Regions from separate parts of the Homo sapiens genome. Here region 1 is linked to region 2. Evidence: fine-mapped expression QTL. Tissue or cell type: cerebellum. Region 2 holds a variant in brackets; the other region holds the start of a gene. All regions are shown on one strand. Distances are from middle to middle.

The links. PIP is the estimated chance that this variant, and not a neighbour inherited with it, causes the effect.
Region 1: GSTT2B starts here. The variant in region 2 is fine-mapped to the expression of GSTT2B in cerebellum (GTEx, PIP above 0.99). The same link has a PIP of 0.9 or more in cerebellar hemisphere, lymphoblastoid cells and skeletal muscle.

Annotation. Positions count from the first base shown.
Region 1 is chr22:23,956,197-23,964,291 of GRCh38, forward strand. It overlaps GSTT2B (glutathione S-transferase theta 2B), which reads right to left and starts at 4,999. Exons shown (of 5, transcript NM_001080843.4): 1 at 4,824-4,999; 2 at 4,098-4,185; 3 at 2,355-2,505; 4 at 2,089-2,262; 5 at 1,218-1,736. The coding sequence starts at 4,935. The coding sequence ends at 1,527. RefSeq lists enhancers at 1-295, 296-903, 3,220-3,885.
Region 2 is chr22:23,880,472-23,888,572 of GRCh38, forward strand. SLC2A11 (solute carrier family 2 member 11) reads left to right here. Exons shown (of 12, transcript NM_001024939.4): 7 at 1,988-2,175; 8 at 2,288-2,398; 9 at 3,301-3,402; 10 at 3,478-3,553; 11 at 3,831-3,958; 12 at 4,178-5,841. The coding sequence ends at 4,378. Among named protein-coding and RNA genes, the nearest start is that of MIF, 9.9 kb to the right of the region's middle. RefSeq lists an enhancer at 7,891-8,101. The variant G/C (reference allele first, on the strand shown) is at 3,862.

The DNA.
Region 1 (8,095 bases), 76 kb after region 2:
GGAAATTCCCACCTAATAAATTTTGGTGAGACCGGTTGGTCTCAAAACCCTGTCTCCTGATAAGATGTTATCAATGACAATGGTGCCCGAAACTTCATTAGCAATTTTAATTTTGCCTCGGTCCTGTGGTCCTGTGATCTTGCCCTGCCTCCACTTGCCTTGTGATATTCTATTACCCTCTTAAGTACTTGATGTCTGTCACTCACACCTGTTCGCACACTCCCTCCCCTTTTGAAAATCCCTAATAAAAACTTGCTGGTTTTTGTGGCTTGTGGGGCATCACGGATCCTACCAACGTGTGACGTCTCCCCCGGATGCCCAGCTTTACAATTTCTCTCTTTTGTACTCTCTCCCTTTATTTCTCAAGCCGGCTGACGGTTAGGAAAAATAGGAAAGAACCTACGTGATTATTGGGGCAGGTCCCCCGATAGAGTGGCACATGATGGGCACAGGGCAGGCTTGGGAAATGGGGGGCCGTAAGGCCACAAGACATGTGGGCAGGTAGCCCAGAGTGTGTCTGGAACATCCTGTTTATTGGTCGGCAGTGACATCTACTGTCACATTTGAGAACTGCATCCACAGCCACATGACCTCCTGTGAAGACCTCAGGGCAAACTGGGGAAACCTGCCCTTCTTGGAAGGTGATACTAGGGGGGATGAGCAACACCTTTCTTGGAGGTTTGAATTCTTCAGGGCCCCTCCAGCATCTTGGTCTTCCTAATTCCTCCCTTGATCCCCCAGCCCTAGGGGTGGTAGCTTCTTGCAGTGTTTACCTCCGTGTTAATCTGGATTCTCTCTGTCTTCGGAGTTCTCTAATGCCTGGTTACCAATTCTTTATATCAAGTTCTCTCCGTTAAAATCATTGTGGTGGGGTCCATCCCATGGATATACATGGAGGTCTGTGTGACAATGTATAATCTTACTATTTGCAGTTATTACAAAACTGTCCTAGAAGACATGAATGCTTGTTAAAAGAAATCTTTTAAGTTTCCTAGACTTCAAAGACCGTTGCTATGCCCTGTGAAACATCGCCTATATCCTTTAACAGTTTGCAATTCGAATTGGTTACTTACTTAACATTTTGTTGCCCTGGTGATACAATTATGTTGACTCGTTATTGTGAGGTTACTTTGTTATTAACCATGATGAGGATTACTAGCACATACTTTTACTCCATATGTATAACACAACAATGTAGTAAAACCAATAACTCTTGGTTCTCTATTCAAAGTGTTTGGAATCTTTATTCTGTTTAAAACACTGATGACATTTGCCAATTTTTGAGTGTTCTTCATGTTACTGATTTGTAGGAGCTCTTTATATATTGCAGATTTAGTCTCTTACTGGTTATGTATGCTGCACCTGAGGAGTAGCAGCACTGCCAAGGACACTGAGTGTCTTGTCTGTGCAGAGCTTCACATGAAGCTGGAGAGAAGGGACTGGGGCAAGAGGGAAAGATAAAAAGGGGCAAGTAAGTAACAGAATGAATCCTTGTTGCTAATCTCCTGGCCCCCATCCCAGACCCTTCAGGGGATCCTGGCGATTCGAAGCAGCATAGCCTGATAGGCCTCTGGTGAGGGTGTTGGGAGGGTTTTCTTGGCCGCCTGTTCCAGGATGCTCAAGATGATGCTGTGGGCCTCCTGGCATAGCTCAGCACCCAGGAAAGCCTCCACTCGTCCACGCCATGCTGCCAGTCGTGGCCGTCCCTCAAACAGTTCATAGCCGAGAGCCACCGGCTGTAGGGACAAGGATGAAAAAGTTGTGGGCATACAACTTTCCCAGTTGTCACTGCCGACCCGAATGCTGGAACCATGGGCAGAAGTATCAGAGACATGGTCCATTCCCCAGCCCCTAAGTGAATGGACCACAGGGGCCCAGGCAGTATGTTCAGCCTTAGAGCCCAAGAGCAGCCAGGGTGAGACCCCACACCCAGGCAGGAGGCAGAAGTTCAGGGTTCTGGCCCCAGATCATCCAGAGACTTGCTCTATGATTCTGGGCAAAGTTCTGGCTTTCTCCAGGCCTCAGTGTTTCTGTCTGCCTCATGGGTGTGACACGAAGAGGGACACTGCCCACAGGCTGAGCTCACACCTGCATCAGCTCCTCCAGGGCCATGAGATCAGCCAGTGTCACCTGCTGGCCAGCGAGGAAGGGCCTGTCCCCCAGGAACTTGTCCTCCAGCCATTGCAGGGCCTGGTCCATGGCAGTCCTGTTGCGTTCCACCTTCTCCTCGGGCACCTGGACCCCAATGAGTGGCCCCAACACCTGATGGGGGCAGAGAGTGGGTCAGTCTATGGCCCCGGCCTACTGCCAACTACTCCCTGATGGCCAATCACTCTCCAGATGGCTCTCCTCACCTGGACCCACAGGGGTATACCAAAGGTGCCACGGATGCAGTCGGCATGCCAGCCCAGGTACTCATGAACACGGGCACGAGCCTGCAGGTCAGATGGATACCAGTGGTCCGGCGTCTGGTACTTACAGCTCAGGTAAATCAGGATGGCCGAGCTGGGAACAAATGGGCAGTGGCTATAAGGACACTGGCACCAGGCATTTACCCCTAACTGCTCCCATCTGCCAGTGGGGCCCGGGGGCTTCTCTGCATTTGAAGGACTGCCCTCCAGCCTCGCCCTCCATCTCCAGCTCCCCAACACCACCCCCTCCTCCTACGAGTCTCCTCCTGTCTTTGTTGCCTTGGGCACCGACTCTTGGCTGGACCTTCTGCTTTGCATTTTGAGAACCTCATCTCTGTGATATGCCAGCAGCCGCCCTGTGAGGTAGACACTCCTGTTAGCCTTTTAGCACAAGAGAAAACTCAAGGTCAGAATGGTCAAGTGACTTGTCCGAGGCGGTGCAGCTCAGAATAGGCTCCCTGGACCCCTGGAACCCTGCATGGGGCTGGCACACAGTGGATGCTCCGTGGAGTCCCTTGCATGTCCACGCGCTTGGGTCAGGGATCACGAGGGGAGGAATGTCTTTGGCCCCCGTCTGACAGGCCCCCAGCCATCACTTCTGCAGCCACCTGACCTCTTGTCCTTTTCCTGCCCAGCAGCTGGACCTCACCATGAGCTGTGCCCTTGGGCCATGGCATTGGCCTCTAGGCCCGGCCTGGGTAGATTGGGTAGTCTGCAACAAGTCACTAGAGGCTCTTTTCAGCTAGCATTTGTTGAACAAATGCGCAACAGTGGAAAAATGTTCCCTTGTCTTCTCTTCTAATACCCTTCAGTCTGGGAGTGGAGAGGCCCTGCGGCTCAGAAAAGGCTGGAAGATGAGAGGTGGGGGGACATGTTCTGTCAGCCCCTGCTCATCCCGGTCACACCCCAAGCTGTACCTTCTCCCCAGATACCTCTCCTTTCTTTCTTTCCTTTTTTTTTGAGACGGAGTCTCCCTCTGTCGCCCAGGCTGGAGTGGGCTCCCTCTGTCACCCAGGCTGGAGTGCAGTGGTGCTATCTCTGCTCATTGCAAGCTCCGCCTCCTGGGTTCACGCCATTCTCCTGCCTCAGCCTCCCCAGTAGCTGGGACTACAGGCGGCCGCCACCACGCCCTGCTAATGTTTTGTATTTTTAGTAGAGACAGGGTTTCACCGTGTTACCCAGGATGGTCTCGATCTCCTGACCTCGTGATCCGCCCACCTCGGCCTCCCAAAGTGCTGGGATTACAGGCGTAAACCACCGCGCCCGGCCTTTTTGAGACGGAGTCTAGCTCTGTCGCCCAGGCTGGAGTGCAGTGGCGCGATCTCAGCACACTGCAAGCTCCGCTTCCTGGGTTCACACCATTCTCCTGCCTCAGCCTCCAGAGTAGCTGGGACTACAGACGCCCGCCACCACGCCCGGTTAATTTTTTTTCCATTTTTAGTAGAGACGGTGTTTCACGGTGTTAGCCAGGATGGTCTCGGTCTCCTGACCTCGTGATCCGCCCGCCTTGGCCTCCCGAAGTGCCGGGATGACAGGCGTGAGCCACCGCGCCCGGCCAGATCCCTCGCCTTTCCCCTCCCTCGCTGCCCCATGGGGTATGGGAGGGCCACTGGGGCCCGGGGCCAGTGGGGAGAGCCAAGGTCACATGGGCTCCGGATGCGGTGAGGGGTGAGGGAAGGAGGGCACCTTTCGGTCAAGATGAAATCACCATCCTTGAGCGTCGGCAGTTTCCCCAGGCTGTTGATCTGCAAGAACTCCTTGCTCTTGTGCTGCCCTGAAGAGGAAGAAGTCAGAAAAGGTCTTCAGAATAAAAACGCTGCACCTCTACACCCTCCCTCCTCCTCCCCAAGCGGAGCCCCACAGCCCTGAGAAACAGCAAGGTCTGGGACTAGAGGCCTGGATCAGCCTCACTCCCTGGCTGGGCCTCCCTGCCCTGCCACATTCCGGGGCAGCTGGGGGGCTTTGGTGGGTGGGGCCAGGTGCAGCAGGTGGATAAAGAGAAGTTTTCTAGCCGGACTCTGGTGGGCCAGGGGAGGGGAGGCAAACTGGGGTGGCTCATCTCTTCCCATCTCTTAATTCTCACAACAGCATGTCCTTCTTCCCAAGGTCTTCTGGGCTTTGTGAATTTATATGCGTGCATTCCACGCAAGAACTCTGTCAACTCCATTCAGTATTTTCTTTCCATCCCTACAGAGCAGAAGGTAACATTATCCTCCTTTTCAGAAGGCAAGCTAAGGTTCAGAGAGGCTGTGATCCCTCCAAGGCCACTCAGTCCACAGCATTCTCTGGTGGCAGACGCTGCAGGAGGAGGTGAGGGGGCTGTGCGGGCGGCGAGACGCTCAGGGCAGAGCAGGGCGGGGGCCTGGGGGTGCACTGGGTTTGTGGACACGCGGGGAAACGGGCTGGGCCCACCTTTGACCAAATCCACGGTGCGCAGCTCTAAGGGGATGCCATTCTTCTTGGCGAAGATGTAGACGGCGCGGCTGGGCTGGGACACCAGGTCAAGAAACAGCTCTAGGCCCATGGCGGGGGCGGCAAGGACAGCGGGGATGGCAGTGAAGGCGCTGAGCGCGGTGTGGGCAGCAGCTGTGGCAGGATCCCGGCGCGCCGGGAAATAGGGGATCAGGCCCCACCCCCTGGGGACAGCACCCAATTGGAGCGCACCACCCCCGGACCCGCCTCGCCCCTTCGGTTCCTGTCCAGTCCTGCCGGCCAAGACTCCACCACCAGATCCGTGCGTCCCTACAGGGAGGGCGGTCGCTATGAACGCACAGCTGGGAGGGTGGAGTTGGAGCTGGGGACCCTCGACTGGCAGGGAGGACGCGGATGCAGGGGGCCGACTGCAAGGGGAAGGGGAACCGGCTGGACAGGGAGAAGCAGGTCTGCTTTTCGGGATCCCGGTGCCAGGGACCCTGCCCAGTTCCAGGCGTCGCCCTGACCCAGAAACGACTGGGCGCCGCCGTCCTGGAAAGGCCCCAGCGCACGGACATCTGAGGGTTCGTTCAGAGCTCTGTTTCTCGGCGCTGCATGGTGGCGGAAGGGAGGGAGCGAATGGGATCCCCTAAAAGGGATCTTAGAGTTTCACCCAGTGGGATGTGACACTTGCAGGTGTCCCAAACTGGTGGGAACCTTGACTGGAAGGCTGGGGTTAAGGATGAACTTTCTGCCGTCCAGACTGTCCCCTGCAGAGCAGCTGCTGCCAGACAGCGGGAGCTGCCAGACAGCGGGAGCTCCCACTTCGTGCACAGGATGGGGGCAGGGAGCCCGCAGCCGCGGGAGGCAGGAATGACTGTCCGGGAACCTCCTTTCTTCTCCCTGAATCCCAGCCCTGGCATCTCACCAGGGGGCACAGTGATGGTCCAGGGCTGGGCCCGGGACTCTAGCTGAATCTTTCAGAGTATCCCATCCCTCTGGCCAGTGGCCCAAGCGAGTGAACCAGAATGCTTCCTTGGGAGTTTTGAAACTGGAACTGGAGAGAGGAGCTCCCTATGGGGAGGTAAACGGGAGCTGGGGCCACCTGTAGTGACATTTCCTGAGTTCGAGGAGTAGACGAGACTGAGAGAGAAAAGCTGACTCAGAGAAAGGGAGTGATAACAGGGCATGCTGGCCCACACCTGCAATCCCAGTTACTCTCACGGGATCTGTTTCTCTGATGTCTGGGTATGAAAGGACTTTCTAAGCCTCAGAACAGTGGGAGAACTCAACAAAGAAAAAACCAATACATATACAAGGTTACTTTGTGGAGGAAAAAATGGATTAACCTTAAGCAAAAAACTGGGAAGGATCTCGGTAAAAGATACGTCAGAAGGAAGTAATGTCCTTTAAGATGTTCTTAGAAACCCATCAGACAGGTAGGGTGTGGTGGTTCACGCCTGTAATCCCTGTACTTTGGGAGGCAGAGATGGGCGGATCAGTTGAGGTCAGGAGTTTGAGACCAGCCTGGGCAACACGGTGAAGCCCCGTCTCTACTAAAAATACAAAAATTAGCTGGGTGCGGTGGCACACTCGGGAGGCTGAGACAGGAGAATCACTTGAACCTTGGAGGCAGAGGTTTCAGTGAGCTGAGATCATACCACTGCACTCCAGCCGGGCCACTGAGCGAGACTGTCTCAAAACAAACAAACGAACAAACAAAAAGAAGAGAAACTCATCAGACGAAGACACAGGAAAAAAATGAGCGAAGGAAATCAGCAGAGGTTTCATTGAAGGACAAAGAGAAATGGTCAATACATGGATGAAAACATGTTTAACTTCAGTAATAATCAAGGAAGCACACACCAACACAACATGCACATACTGTTTTTATTTATCAAAGGCACACATATTTTTGAAATGAGTACTCCTAATTAATATGTACAGAGCACTTACCCAGTGCCCAGCACAGGGGTGGCACCCTGTGTGTGAGACAGCATGAAACAGGTAGACACGCGCCCTGCTGAAAGTAAGGGACCGCCTCTCTGGAGGATCCATCGGGCAATAAGGAGGTTTCCACACCTTAACTGTGTCTGCCTTGACCTCTGGGGCCTGGGAGCAGAGCCCCCTCCAGCTGGTGGGGAAGGAAGCGTGGTGTGTTTGAGGACAGAATGGAGAGAAGTTGAGTAGAGCAAGTGTAGACTCTTCCTATCCAAAGTGTGGTCAATGGACTGGGAGTATCAGCATCACCAGGGAGCTTGTTGGAAATGCAGAGGCTCAGGCCCCACTCTGACCTTACTGATTGGGAGCATAAACTGTAACCAGATTCCAGGGAGGATTCATACACACATTCCCGTTTGATAAGTGGGGGGTAGTAGGAGGTGAGGTGAAAAGTGGGGAGGGGATGGCTACCGCACTGGAGAAGGCTGGCTTTGTGTTGAGGCCTTTCTCATGAGGGCAGTGGGGAGCCATGGAAGGCTTTATGCAAGAGAGGGTACGGGCAGATTGAGATTACAGAAGGATCCCACTGGTTGCCTTGTGTGAGGACCCAGGGAGAAGGGGGAGGCTGTCCCTGTTTGAGTAGGAGATGAGAGCTACTGGTGGCTATGAGTGGAAAGAAGTGAGCAGAGGTGAGCAGAAATCCCAAGGACTGGTGATGATAGGATGATGGTGGGAACCAGGATGGGCTTTGGGCAGACCCTGACCCCTCTCTCTGCCTGTCGGCCCACCAGATAATAATCCCTGTGTTCCTGGGCGAGTCAGTGCCACCCGAGATGTTGGCGGCCACTTTGGCTGAGCTGGACGGATGCTTGCAGCTGCTCGAGGACAAGTTCCTGCGGGACCAGGCCTTCCTTACTGGGCCCCGTATCTCTGTGGCTGGCTTGGTGGCAATCACGGAGCTGAGGCATGAGAGTGCCATGGGGTGCGGTGGCCCGCTGGGCAGTGGTGTATCCGGGAAGGGAGCTGACATCCCAGCTCATGTTGTCTTTTCTGGCTGTGGGACCCTGTGTGAGTCACTTCTCCTTCTGAGCCTCAGTGTCCTCATCTATAAAATGGGGCTTTACAAACCCCTCACCGCAGCTATATTAAGAGGCTTCCAAGTGTCCCCAGGGAGGGGGACATCCTAGCCCATCACACACATGGTGGAGGAGGGAAAATCCAATCAGAGAACCCCTAAAGCAGGTCATGCTGCCTTACACTTGGCTATGCCCAGCCCCTCCGCTGACTCTGTCTTCCCCTAGCCCATCAGTGCTGGCTGCTGAGTCTTTGAA
Region 2 (8,101 bases):
CCCAAGGCCTAATTGCTGGTATTTAGGGTATGTCAGGCTACCGTGAATCAACGCCCTCAAGCCTCCTAAATGCCCCCTTTTCTAGTTGTGAGGGTCTGTGAGGCACTGCTTTAAGCTATACCCTTGATTTGATCTTTACTATGAGTCCATGGCTTCCTGGCAGTGCTCTGGATTTGATCTTTGCTCACAGGCTGTTACTTAATTTGGGATTCTTTTGCTAGCTGGAGAGGATAGAGGCGAGAAAACATTTTTTGTTGTTGTTTTCAACTAACCCAGTGTTTCTGAAATATGCTACGTTTAATTAAATTTTGTTGCCTCTGAATTCTGCTTGCAAACTGGCCAGTTATTTTCTGAGCTAATTCTTCATGTCTTACAGCAAGCTTAGAATATGCATCTAACAGCAACCAGTTCATGCTTTCAACATTTGGAGTTTTCTTTGCTCAAGTCCATAAGTTCACTGAGCCCATTTTCTTTCTTCCGTGTTACTGCACTATATAACATAGCTTTTCATTTCTCCAGCCTCATCGCCGTCCTCTGCCTCGTCTTGGAACTGATACCATATTTCACAGGTCTTTGTTACGGTAGCACCAACTCCTGGTGCCAATTTATTGATCAGCTTTCTATTGCTGACTAATAGATGATCATAACATCTCGGTGGTAAAGAAACAAAAAAAGCAATTATTTAGCCTAAGCCTCTAAGTCCTCTGGGCTGGGCTGATCTAGGATGGTTCTGGCTGATGGCTCTGCTGATCTTGGTCATTCCTGCAACTGCAGCTCAGCTGGGCATTGGCTGGCTGATCTAGAATAGTCCCAGTGAGGGTGGCTTAGCTGGGCCCCTTTGGCTGTCCATGTCTTGTCATCCTCCTGGCTAGCCTGGAATGTTCTCATGAAGGCAGAAGAGCAAGTAGAAGTGAGCAAGGCCTCTTAAGGCTTAGGCTGGAACATGGTACGCCCTCACTGCAGCCTCATCCTATTGGCCGAGCCCAGAGCCAGGAGCAGGGATGTAGGCAGTACTTGCCCCTTTAGTGGGAGGAACTGCAAAATCACACAGCAAGCAGTGTGGGTGCAGGGAGGGGTGAAGAATTGGGTTTGATAATGTGCTGCAATAGTCATGTCCTGTCTGATATGTCCGCAGAACCCTGCGTTTCTTTCTAAAGCCTTTTTTCATCCATGGTGGCAACACCGCAACAGCCCTGAGAAATGTCAGGGCAAGGAAGATCATCTCCATCTGACCAGGGAGGCAAACAGAGACAGAGAGATTGAGAGAGACAGAGGCAGAGAGAGAGAAACACACACACACACAGACAGACACAGAGACAGAGAGATTGAGAGAGACAGAGGCAGAGAGAGAGAGAAACACACACACACACAGACACAGAGACAGAGAGATTGAGAGAGACAGAGGCAGAGAGAGAGAAACACACACACACACAGACACAGAGACAGAGAGATTGAGAGAGACAGAGGCAGAGAGAGAGAGAAACACACACACACACACACACACAGAGACAGAGAGATTGAGAGAGACAGAGGCAGAGAGAGAGAGAAACACACACACAGACACAGAGACAGAGAGATTGAGAGGCAGAGAGAGAAACACACACACACACAGAGACACACACAGAGACAGAGAGATTGAGAAAGACAGGCAGAGAGAGAGAGAAACACACACACACAGACACAGAGACAGAGAGATTGAGAGAGACAGAGGCAGAGAGAGAGAGAAACACACACACACACACAGACACAGAGACAGAGAGATTGAGAGGCAGAGAGAGAAACACACACACACACAGAGACACACACAGAGACAGAGAGATTGAGAGAGACAGAGGCAGAGAGAGAGACACACACACACACAGACAGACTCAGAGACAGAGAGTGAGCCAAGAAGGAAAGGAATGGTGGGATGGAGGGGGGCGTCCCTGTAGGGGGACCAAAGAGGGGCTTGGGGACGGGGAGCTCAGTACCCTCCTCCCTGGCTCAGCACTACGGCGGCTCCGGGGCTCCGGGGACTTGGCAGGGGAGCTGGAGGAGCTGGAGGAGGAGCGCGCTGCCTGCCAGGGCTGCCGTGCCCGGCGCCCATGGGAGCTGTTCCAGCATCGGGCCCTGAGGAGACAGGTGACAAGCCTCGTGGTTCTGGGCAGTGCCATGGAGCTCTGCGGGAATGACTCGGTGAGACCCCTGCCCCGCCGCACACCCTGGGCCCCGGGGGCTTGGTGTTGCAGGCCGCTGGGAGCCATGGGAGGTGGAAGGGAGCCCAGGCCTGAAAGCCACCCTCTCCCAGGTGTACGCCTACGCCTCCTCCGTGTTCCGGAAGGCAGGAGTGCCGGAAGCGAAGATCCAGTACGCGATCATCGGGACTGGGAGCTGCGAGCTGCTCACGGCGGTTGTTAGTGTGAGTCTGGAGGGTGCCCTTCCTCCACCAGCCCTGTGGGGAGGGACCCCCAGGTCCTCTGCATTAAACCAGTTTACACTCCAGCTTATGGTGTTAAAATGCAGTGAGGGGCCAGGTGCGGTGGCTCATGCCTGTAAGCCCAGCACTTTGGGAGGCCGAGGTGGGTGGATCACAAGGTCAGGAGTTCGAGACCAGCCTGGCCAACACAGTGAAACCCCCGTCTCTACTAAAAAATACAAAAAATTATCCCGGCGTGGTGGCGGGCGCCTGTAATCCCAGGTACTTGGGAGGCTGAGGCAGGAGAATCGCATGAACCCAGTAGGTGGAGGTTGCAGTGAGCCGAGATGGTGCCATTGCACTCCAGCCCAGGCAATAGTGCTGAGGTGGGATCAGGAGTTGGAGACCAGCCTGGGCAACATGGTGAAACCCCGTCTCTACAAAAAATACAAAAATTAGCCAGGCGTGGTGGTCTTCGCCTGTAGTGCTAGCTACTGGCGAGGCTGAGGTGGGAGGATCACTTGAGCCTAGGAGGTTGAGACTGCAGTAAACCGAGATTGTGCCACTGCACTCCAGCGTGGGCTGGACCAGTGAGACCCTGTCTCAGCTCAGTGAGACCAGTAAGACCCTGTCTCAATCAATCAATCAATGCAGTGAGTTAGAGAGCATCTATTGAGCATCTACGGTTTGCGGGTCACTTCCAGCACCATTTTGAGATGCGGAAACTGGCTGAAGTTGGGTGATTGATTGACCAAGTTCCTTTGGGAAATTAATAAAGTCACACTGAAGCAATAAACTACCCTCACCTCCACCACCAGCTTTCTCAGGAGACCCCTTCCCATTGCCTGCCCCAGACCTCAGGGACCATGGCTGGGTGTGTGGGTCTGTGCTTTCTGCCTTTGCAGTGTGTGGTAATCGAGAGGGTGGGTCGGCGCGTGCTGCTCATCGGTGGGTACAGCCTGATGACCTGCTGGGGGAGCATCTTCACTGTGGCCCTGTGCCTGCAGGTAGCTGGGGTGGATGAGGGCTGGGGGGTCCAGGCCGGGCTGACTTCCACCTCACCCCCGCCCCGTCCACGGCAGAGCTCCTTCCCCTGGACACTCTACCTGGCCATGGCCTGCATCTTTGCCTTCATCCTCAGCTTTGGCATTGGCCCTGGTGAGTGGGCCCAAGGGGCTCTGGGCATCCATCATCACATAGAAGGAGTGATGGGTGCCTGGGTGCACAGTGGGTGGGTGTGAATGCAATGTCCCCTGCAGGCCCTCAGAGACCACCTCATGCCGGGGCTTCTGGGAGGGAATGGCAGGAGGAGAGCACTGAGGGGCCCCCCATACAGACTGGGCCTGGGCTCCCACTCCCATGTCTGGGCTGGGGTCGGGGAGAGGCAGGCAGGGAACCCTGGCCAGCAGCCCCCTGTCCCTGCCCCTCCTTCTAGCCGGAGTGACGGGGATCCTGGCCACAGAGCT[G/C]TTTGACCAGATGGCCAGGCCTGCTGCCTGCATGGTCTGCGGGGCGCTCATGTGGATCATGCTCATCCTGGTCGGCCTGGGATTTCCCTTTATCATGGTAGGCCCGCCCCTCCCGCTGGGGGCCCTGCCTTAGGCTGTGTCCCTGTCATCCTGAGAACCCCAGGGGGAGGCTTCCATCCAGGGAGACTGAGACTGAAAGGGAGGGGTCTTAGGGGAGCAAAGAGGGGGGCAAATGCCTCCTCACGACCTGTCATGGGCCTTCTGTTTAGGGGTTGATGGAGACACACCAGGTCTTGGGGTCTTTTTTAATCCGCAGGAGGCCTTGTCCCACTTCCTCTATGTCCCTTTCCTTGGTGTCTGTGTCTGTGGGGCCATCTACACTGGCCTGTTCCTTCCTGAGACCAAAGGCAAGACCTTCCAAGAGATCTCCAAGGAATTACACAGACTCAACTTCCCCAGGCGGGCCCAGGGCCCCACGTGGAGGAGCCTGGAGGTTATCCAGTCAACAGAACTCTAGTCCCAAAGGGGTGGCCAGAGCCAAAGCCAGCTACTGTCCTGTCCTCTGCTTCCTGCCAGGGCCCTGGTCCTCACTCCCTCCTGCATTCCTCATTTAAGGAGTGTTTATTGAGCACCCTTTGTGTGCAGACATGGCTCCAGGTGCTTAGCAATCAATGGTGAGCGTGGTATTCCAGGCTAAAGGTAATTAACTGACAGAAAATCAGTAACAACATAATTACAGGCTGGTTGTGGCAGCTCATGACTGTAATCCCAGCACTTTGGGAGGCCAAGGTGGGAGGATCAATTGAGGCCAGAGTTTGAAACCAGCCTAGGTAACATAGTGAGACCCCCTATCTCTACAAAAAATTTTAAACATTAGCTGGGCATGGTGGTATGTGCTAACAGCTCTAGCTACTCAGGAGGCTGAGGCAGCAGGATCACTTGAGTCCAAGAGTTCAAGGTAGCAGTAAGCTACAATCACACCACTGCATGCCAGACTGGGTGACAGAGGGAGACTTCATCTCTTTAAAACATAATAATAATAATTACAGACTCAGGAAATGCAGTGAAAGAAAAATACAGGTTGGCCAGGTGAGGTGGCTGATGCCTGTAATCCCAGCACTTTGGGAGGCCAAGATGGGAAGATTGCTTTGAGACCAGAAGTTTGAGACCAGCCTGGGCCACATAGTAAGATCCTGTTTCTACCAAAAAAAAAAAAAAAAAAAATTAGCTGGGTGTGGTGGTACATGCCTGTGGTCCCAGCTACTCAGGAGGCTGAAATGGGAGGATCACTTGAGCCTGGGAGGTCGAGGCTGCAGTGAGTCCTAATTGAGCCACTGCACTCCAGCCTGGACAACAGAAAGAGACCATGTTTCAAAAAAAATAAATACAGGTTGTAGTGGGTATGGGTATGCATACCAGGAGGCCCGACCTCGTCTGAGAGGGGAGTGGTCAGAAAAGAATTTTCTGAGGAATTGATGTTTTTAATCAACTTTATTGAGGTATAATTTATACATAACCAACTGCATCCATTTTAAGTATATATTTGGCGAGTTTTGAGTTCTAAGTATAGTTTTGGTGAGTGTATACACTTGGGAAACACCACCGTGATCAAGATGGAACCTTTACCCTACCCCAAGGCACCCACATGCCCATTTGCTATCAGTAACCCACCCCAGTCCCAGACCTGGGGAACCACTGACCTGCTTTCTGCCTCAATTGGTCAGATTTGCCTTTTTTCAGAATCTGAAGTCATTCCGTACTGTATGTACACATTTGTGTCTGGCTTGGCTCCAGATAAAGTTTTTGGGATTCATGAATGTTGTTGCACGTATTAGGAGAGACTCCTTTGTATTGCTGAGTAGTATTCCCCTCTGTGGTTAGACCATGATTTATTTATCCATCTACCTGTTGGTGAACATTTTGGCTGTTTCTAATTCTTGGCCATCATGAATAAAACTGCTGTGAATGTTCCTACAATAATAATTGTCTAAACATATGTTTTTATTTCTTTTGTGTCTTAGTCCGTCGGGCTGCTATAACTAAGAACCACAGCCTGGGTGGCTTATAAACAACAGAAATTTATTTTTCATGGTTCTGGAGGCTGGGAAGTCCAAGATCAAGGTGCCAGTGGATTCAGTGTCTGTTGAGGGCCCATGTCTTGATTCATAGATGGCGGTCTTCTTGCTGTGTTCTCCTAGACATGGCAGAAGGGGCAAGGGAGCTCTCTGGGGTCTCTTTTATAAGGGCACCAATCCCATTCATGCAGGCTCTGCCCTCATGACCTAATCACCTCCGAGGAGGCCCAAAGGCCCTACCTCCAAGTACCATCATATGAGGGATTAGGTTTCAAGGTATGAACCTGGGGAGGACATAAACAGTCAGTCTAGCTTTTTGGGTAAATGAATTGCTGGGCTTAATAATAAATGTATATTTAACTGTATAAAAATTGTTTTCCAAAGTGGTTGATTATATTGTTTCACATTCTCATTAATAATGTATGAGTTCTGGATACTCCAGATCCTCATCAGCACTTGGTATTGTCAGTCTCTTCAATTTAGCCATTCTAGTGAGTGTGTAGTGGTATCTTGTCATTTAATTGTGGTATTTCCCTAATGACTAATAATGTTTGACATCTTTTCATGTGCTCAGTATGGCCATTTGTGGGTTTTCTTTTATGAATAATTTGTTCAAATATTTTGTCTACTTTTTTTTGTTGTTGTTGTTGAGACAGGGTTCTCTGTCGCCCAGGCTGGAGGGCAGTGGAATGAACTCAGCTCATTGCAACCTCTGCCTCCTGGACTCAAGCGATCCTCCCACCTCAGCCCCCCAAGTAGGTGGGACCACAGGCGTGAGCCACCATGCCCTGCTAATTTTTGTATTTTTGGTAGAGATGGGATTTTGCCATGTTGGCCAGGCAAGTTTCAAACTCCTGACATCAAGTGATCCACCCACCTTGGCTTCCCAAAGTGCTGGGATTACAGGCATGAGCCACCGCACCCAGCCCTTATCTGCTATTTTTATCAGGTTGGTTGTCATTATTTTTTAAATGTGGGCATTTTTTATACATTCTGGAAGCTAGTACTTTGTTAAATATATAGTATTGTAAATATTTTCCTGCAGTCCGTAGCTTGCCTTTTTTATTTTCTTAATGCTACCTAAGAGCAGAATTTTTTTTTTTTTTTTTTTTTTGGAGATGGAATCTCGCTCTGTCACCCAGGCTGGAGTGCAGTGGCGCGATCTCGGCTCACTGCAGCCCTGCCTCCTGGGTTTAAGCAATTCTCCTGCCTCAACCTCCTGAGTAGCTGGGACTACAGGCACGTGCTGCCATGCTCTGCTCATTTTTTTGTATTTTTAGTAGAGACGGGGTTTCACCATGTTGGCCAGGATGGTCTTGATCTCCTGACCTCGTGACCTGCTCGCCTCGGCCTCCCAAAGTGCTGGGATTACAGGCGTGAGCCACCTGGCCCGGCCGAACAGAAATTTTTATTTTGGTAAAGTTTGATTTATCAGTTTTTGGTTTTTGTGATTCATGCTTTTTGTGCCATAAGATATCTTTGCCTATCCCAATGTTGCAAAGATTTTCTTCCAAATGTTGGATAGTTTTAGCTTTTACACTTATGTTGCTGATGATGAATTTCAAGTTAATTTTTGGGTATGGTGTGAGGGGCTGAGGTTCCTTTTTTTTGGGTGGGTGGGGGGAACAGGGTCTCACTGTGTGTTGCCTAGACTGGAGTGCAAGTGACGTGATCTCAGCTCACTGCAACCTCTACCTTCCAGACTCAAGCAATCCTCCCACCTCAGCCTCCTAAGTAGCTGGGACTACAGATGCGTGCCACCATGCCTGGCTAATTTTTTTTTTTTTTTTTTTGAGATGGAGTCTTGCTCTTTCGCCCAGGCAGGACTGCAGTGGCACTATCTCGGCTCACTGCAACCTCTGCCTCCCGGGTTCACGCCATTCTCTTGCCTCAGCCTCCCGAGTAGCTGGGACTGCAGGCGCCCGCCACCGCGCCCGGCTAGCCTGGCTAATTTTTGTTTTGTTTTGTTTTATTGTTTTTCTTTGTTTTTTTGTAGAGACAGGCTTTTGCCATGTTGTTCAGACTGTTCCTGAACTCATGGACTCAAGCCGTTCGTTTGCCAAAGTGCTGGGATTACAGGAATGAGTCACCATGACTGGCCCTTTTTTCTTTTCTTTCTTTTTTTTTGAAATGGCTATCTGGTCGTACCAGTACCATTTGCTTTA